Linked DNA regions of Homo sapiens: region 2 is reported to be linked to region 1. Evidence: microRNA targets listed by miRTarBase, many of them from high-throughput screens and not tested one by one. Region 1 holds a microRNA gene; the other region holds the end of a gene's coding sequence.
What was found. Region 1 holds the annotated microRNA hsa-miR-6840-3p (GCCCAGGACUUUGUGCGGGGUG, at 1,855-1,876, shown strand). A microRNA usually pairs through its seed, bases 2 to 8, with sites in the 3' UTR of a target mRNA and lowers its output. Matches are read on the target gene's strand: a 7mer-m8 pairs with bases 2 to 8, a 7mer-A1 pairs with bases 2 to 7 and ends in A, and an 8mer does both.

Region 1 (3,174 bases):
CAAGGGGCTCAGCCCTGTGGCTCATATGTGTAATCCCAGCACACTGAGAGGATGCCTTGAGCCTGGGAGATTGAGGCCAGCCTGGGTAACAGTGACACCACGTCTCTGCAAAAAAGAAAATTAGGGGAGAACTGTGGTGCGTGCCTATAGTCCCACCTACAGGCAGAGCGAGACCATGTCCCCCACTAAAAAGAGGCCAAGAATGCAGGAAATATAGATAATATGGGCCCTGTGATGGGTGGAGGCCAAATAGATCAATACAGAATTGAAGAAGACACAGAGCACTTGTATTTCCCTTCAGGCATAGCGCGCTGGCTAGGACTCCAGTACCGTGAAGGGAGGCAGTGAGAGCAGACATCTGTGCCTCATTCCTGATCTCAAGGGGAAAGCAAGAACAAGGTGGGTGCCAAGGAGGGGCAAGGGGCTGGGGCAGGCATAGACGTGGCTGGTGAGGAAAGGAGGATAGTTGTTGGGGGAAGGTGGGGACATACAAGCAGCAGTTCTCAAAATGGGCAGGGTCCTGGCCCCCTCCCTGCCTCTGCTGAACACTGCATCCCATGCCTCTCCCATGGCCACCTGCTGGGCTAACGGGCTGGATTTAGACTCTGCCCATGTTGGAATCATGCCCTCCTCCAGGGCCGGTGCCTCCCAAAACCCCCCTCTGAGAGAGAGCCACAGCCCCAGGCTTAGCCCCAGGCCCTGTCACTGCTGTTGGGGGAGGGAGGATGAACCATCCGGGAGGCCTCACACCATTCCAGAGCAGAAATCCTGACACAAAAGGAATCTCCCATGGGGGTTCAGCTGGGTCCAGAGCCCGGAAAGTGACATAAACACGCACCTTGCATCTAAGGAGAATGCACGTGGCGGTACCGGGCCTGAGGCCCCTGGGGAGTATGTACCCTCCAGAGCTACCCAGAGGCTGTTGGCTAAAAGTTCTATGTGGCCCCCTCCTTGGGCAGCCTGGTAAGCAGGTGACCTTCTAGCTGGGTCCCATGGGCCACGGGCAAGGCAGGAATGGAACGAAGAGTCAGTCCTCAGTGGCTGGGTGTTGTATCCCATGCCTATAATCCCAGCACTTTGGGAGGCTGAGGTGGGCAGATCACTTGAGGCCAGGAGTTTGAGACCAGCCTGGCCAACATGGTGAAACCCTGTCTCTACTAAAAATATAAAAATTAGCTGGGTGTGGTGGCACACACCTGTAATTCCCAGCTACTTGGAAGGCTGAGGCAGGAGAATTACTTGAACCCAGGAAGCAGAGGTTACCGTGAGCCAAGATCACACCATTGCACTCCAGCCTGGGCAACACAGCGAGAATCCATCTCAAAAAAAAAAAACAAAAAGTCCTCAGGCAGGGTGGGCCACCCTCTTGAGGCCTTGCCCAAACAGCCAGGGGGTCCCTTGTCCTCTTTTCGGCCCACCTTTGCAGGTGGGACCAGTTCAGTCCAAAGCCCCGGTGCCTCAGTTTCCCTGTGGGTTGAACAAGGAGAATGAGGTGTATAGGGCCTGGCTCAGACGGAGGGGTTTCCTGAGCATGGGGAGCCTGTTTCCTCAGACCTGTGAAGGGAAGGAGGGTGGATCGGCCTGACTGGCCCTGGGAAGCACAGAGGAGCCTACTGGGACCAGGGAAGAGACTGACAAGAGAAGGGAGGCCTGTCCCTGCCTGCTTCTGTCTCAAGAAGATTGTTATCACTTCCTCTGGTGAAATCCTGCCTTCCTGTCCCCACGGCCCCTCAGCTGATGCCACCTTACTCTGGAGAGGATGGGCAGAGCCTCCTATGGAGGGAGCCCTGTGGGTCACCAAAGCTCCAGTGACCACCCCCGGGCAAAGACCTGCAGATCCCCTGTTAGAGACGGGCCCAGGACTTTGTGCGGGGTGCCCACTGTTGCTCTGAGCCTTCACTTCCTCAGGGAGGCTTCCTCAGGATCTCGAACCTGCGGAAGGAGGACCAGTCTGTGTACTTCTGCCAAGTCCAGCTGGACATACAGATCAGGGAGGCTGTCGTGGCAGTCCATCAAGGGGACCCACCTCACCATCACCCAGGGTGAGTCCAGCTGCCCTGGCACCAAGGAACCTTCCTGGTTCAGCCATAGGCTCAGGTGTGTGGAGGGAATGACCTGAGGGGCTGTATGAGGGAACAACCTCCTGGGGCTCCCCTATGCCTGAGTTCCTGCAACTCAGAAGTTGAGGCCCAGAGATCCAGGTAGAGGGGGCTCCAGTCCTGGGACTGCCCTGCAAGTCATGTGGCCTGGGACAGGGCTTCTCCAAGCTCTGTCCCCTCCTGTGTAGGGCAGGGAGGTCAGAGGGGACCCTGCAGATCCAGTCTCATGTCTGGGGGTCAAGGGGTGGCCTCGAGAGGGACCAGTCTCTGTGTAGGGGACCGTCAGCCCCCTCACCCCTTGAGCAAGACTGTGGTCCCTGCACCAAGGGAGCAGGCCTGGGGTGGGAAGAGGCCAGCTGGGCTGTGGTGGTGCCTGGGGACTGCATGGGAGCCCCTGCCAGGGAGGGAGAGGGACAGAGGACAAGCTGGGGGCTCTGGTGCTTGGGCTGGGGGCTGAGCGCCTGTGACCTCCACTGGCTTCCTCCTTCTCCTCTCTGAGGACTGAATCTGGGGTGCAGCAGAGCACAGACTCAGGCCCGCCTTTCCTCTCCCTGAAAGAGCCTGCGCTGGCCTTGGACAGAGAAAGGGATGAGAAGTGAGGCTGAGTGCGGTGGGGTCTGCAGGGATCCAGGTGGGAGGGGCCCAGCCAGCCAAGGTGAGGCCCAGCCCCTCAGCAGGAAGATGGGCACTGGGGCCCTTGGGCAGGGCTGACTTGACACTTTTGTGTGACTTGAGCCACTGTGCCCAGCCTGAACACCCTTTCCTGGTAAAACACTCCACAAACCAGGAAGAGAAGGAATGTACTGCAACAAAATAAAGGCCAGTCATGCAAGGCCCATGGCTGAAAGTCTTTCAGTCATTTTAGATGAAAGACTGAAATCTTTGCCTCCAAGATCAGGAACAAGAGAAGGATGCCCGCTCTCACTACTTCTATTCAACACAGGATTTGAAGTCAGGCCGGGCACAGTGGCTCACGCCTGTAATCCCAGCACTTTTGGAGGCTGAGGCGGGCAGATTACTTGAGCCTATGAGTGTGAGACCACCCTGGCCAACATGGCAAAACCCCATCTCTACT
Region 2 (3,000 bases), not on the chromosome of region 1:
GAAATGTTTTCCATTTGGGTAAGATTTATTTTTATTATTTAATCTGTGGTTTTCTGAGTAAAACCTCAGAAAGTTGTTTTTTTAAGAAACAGCAGGCTGACATACAGAAATGGAAAAGAAGGGAAAAATTACTATTAGTATTTGAACTTTTATTGCTTGAGACTTAATGCAATTATCTTTCTTGCCTACAGATTCCAGGCTTTCCTGATCGGAAAAGATTTGGGGCAGGAACATTAAAGAGCCTTCATTATGACTGAATTACACTCATCCTTTGGAAGAGTGAGCAAGCAGTGGCAGTTTTTCACAGCTCATCTTGCTGTGTTCAATTATTACCATCACAGCCTTTTAACAAAATCATCTTAAAATGCTACCCTTCAGCCTTACCCTTTAATGGAAAAATGAAAGGAAGTGACAATACGGGAGGTCCAAACTTTGTCCCTGTTCTCTGTGTTCCTTACCTTTCTGTCCCTGTGTATAGATTATGTAAAAGCCTTGTGTAAATATGAGATGTTGTCAAAATGATGCAGTAAATGAGCAATGACAGTGTACTGCAGAGAAAATTTACTCTTGCCTAGAACTGGAGGGTTTTTATGGGTCTGTAATTTTCCCACACTCATTGCTGAAAGCTTAATTAAGTACTTCAAAAACGTATCTCCATTGTTTTACCTTCTTGAGGGGAACGGTCTTGTTAACCAGCCCTGAGTTGTCTACCCCAAACAATCTCTGTCATTTTCAAAGATGCAAAATGGTGTTATTTAATTGTCTCCACCATTGTCACACACAGGAATGCCTAATAATAGCAACCCTTGTCTCCCTCTTCTCTCCTTTGCAAATGGCTCAGTGACTGGAAGAGGCGGACTAATAGCCAGAGTTAAATATAAATACAAATTAATAATACATAGAGAACAGCAATACCAGAAAAAAAGAATTCTGGTAAAATGATGTGAAAAATTGACAGCTCCCTCACTCTTAAGGTTGCTGCTATATACAGTCTAGGTTTTCTGTTTGGAAATAGGTAGGGTAAAATCTAAGACCTGCACAAGGGCAGTGAGAGACATTTACAGCCTCCTCTCTATTTGTTTTTTTAAGGAAAAGTCAACTCCTGAAATGTCCCTTAGCTATAATCAGAAAACTAAGAATATTATTCTGTGTCAACAATGTATTTATGGAGAGAAGTAAAAATAAGTTCCACAGCAACACATTTACATGAATTATGAACTAGGATTCTTGGATTTCATAATCACTCCAAAGCTTTTTGGGGATGGTGTGTGTGTGTGTGTGTGTCCGTAATTGTTCATCATTACTTTTTTTAACCTATCTTTTTGCTTGCTTAATCTTCTCTGCCCCAGTTCTTCCTGAGTATATGAATTTGATTTCTAAAAACAATTTATTCAACACTCTATCACCCGTATTCTCTCTCTGGCTCTGCTGCAGGTCTCTGCACTCCTGATTTTGCTCCATACTTTTAAATAACAATAATAAATATACAGTTTTCATTTCTCATTTAAAAAATAGGTGGAAAACACCAAATTCACTTTCTGTTCCATTTTAATTAGGTTTCAGAAGTATCTTGGAAATCAAGGTATGCTGCAAGAGGATATTAAAATAAGAATGTTAGAGAGTCCTTTTAGAAAGGCAGTCTTGGGAATTTGGAAAAGGATTTTTAAAGCAGCTTTCATCAGCTAGACTGTTCTCCAGCCTTTCTTTACTTCCTCTTTGAAAGGACATAGCCCTGGTTTCTTTTTGACACAAAGGAAAGCTATGCAAATCATGATCTGTATGTAGAATTGGTCACAAGTATGTTGTTGCATAGGCTGTACAGTTGGGAAGTAGAAACCAAATGCTACCCAGAGACCTAACCCAATTAAGCTCTTTGTATTTCTCCTTCAAGAAATAAATCTTCCTTCCTTCTTTCTTCCTCTTTCTTTTAATTTTAAAAAAATTCATCCTGATTTTTTTATTTTCTATCTTATTTAAAAAATAAAAATAGGCCAGGCGCGGTGGCTCACACCTTTAATCCCAACACTTTGGGAGGCGGGTCGATCACTTGATATCAGGAGTTTGAGACCAGCCTGGCCAACATAGGGAAACCCTGTCTCTACTAAAAATACAAAAATTAGCCAGGCCTGGTGGCACGCGCCTGTAATCCCAGCTACTTGGGAGGCTGAGGCAGGAGAATCACTTGAACCTGGGAGGTGGAGGTTGCAGTGAGTCAAGATCGTGTCACTGCACTCCAGCCTAGGTGACAGAGTGAGACTCCAACTAAAAGAAAATAAATAAATAAATATATAAATATATAAATAAATAATAAAAGTAAACTATTGCTGATGACTCCAGGGTCAATCTGGAAAAATTAACAGTATTCCTCAACTCCATTACTTTCTGCAGCCAAGCTTGATTCCTTGAATTATAGTTTTCTAAGAAAAAATAGTTTTTAATAATCTAAGGTAAATTTGTTGCAATTATTAGCAGCAGCATAATAAGGCTTTTTGCGCAAATGAATGTTATTAGCTAGAGTTATTCAAAAAAGAATGAAGCACAATTTTTGCTAGGACTTCTTGAGAACTATTCATAAAAATGCTTTTAGATAATAAACAAGTATAAATGTCAAAATATTTTTTTAAAAGTATAATTGGCCAGGTGCTGGCTCACGCCTATAATCCCAGCACTCTAGGAGACTGAGGCAGGAGGATCACTTGAGCTCGGGAGTTTGAGGCTGCAGTGATTCATGATTGCACCACTGCCTTCCAGCAGCCTGATGACAGAGTGGGACTCCATCTCTTTACATATGTATATCTTACTCTCTTGATGGGACAAGTTGGTAGAAATAAAGATTTTTTTTTTCTGTTGTGATTTCGGTGTCTGACCAATTTTCTGACTCATTGTGAAGGTGACCAGATATGAAGGCATATATATGACTACTCCTCTGTCCCTTAGGTGTATAAGACTTAGCTGGAATCCAACTAAAGATTTGGGCTGGTCTCTCCATCTTAACGTTGA

Region 2: the mRNA of RABL3 is a reported target of hsa-miR-6840-3p. Seed matches in the 3' UTR shown: 7mer-A1 at 2,188-2,194.

The regions. Positions count from the first base shown.
Region 1 is chr7:100,354,842-100,358,015 of GRCh38, forward strand. It overlaps MIR6840 (microRNA 6840), which reads left to right and starts at 1,810; the gene lies at 1,810-1,880. STAG3L5P-PVRIG2P-PILRB (STAG3L5P-PVRIG2P-PILRB readthrough) reads left to right here. Exons shown (of 17, transcript NR_036570.1): 12 at 302-399; 13 at 1,909-2,042.
Region 2 is chr3:120,687,080-120,690,079 of GRCh38, reverse strand. It overlaps RABL3 (RAB, member of RAS oncogene family like 3), which reads left to right. Exons shown (of 8, transcript NM_173825.5): 8 at 192-3,000. The coding sequence ends at 257. Among named protein-coding and RNA genes, the nearest start is that of HGD, 6.3 kb to the right of the region's middle.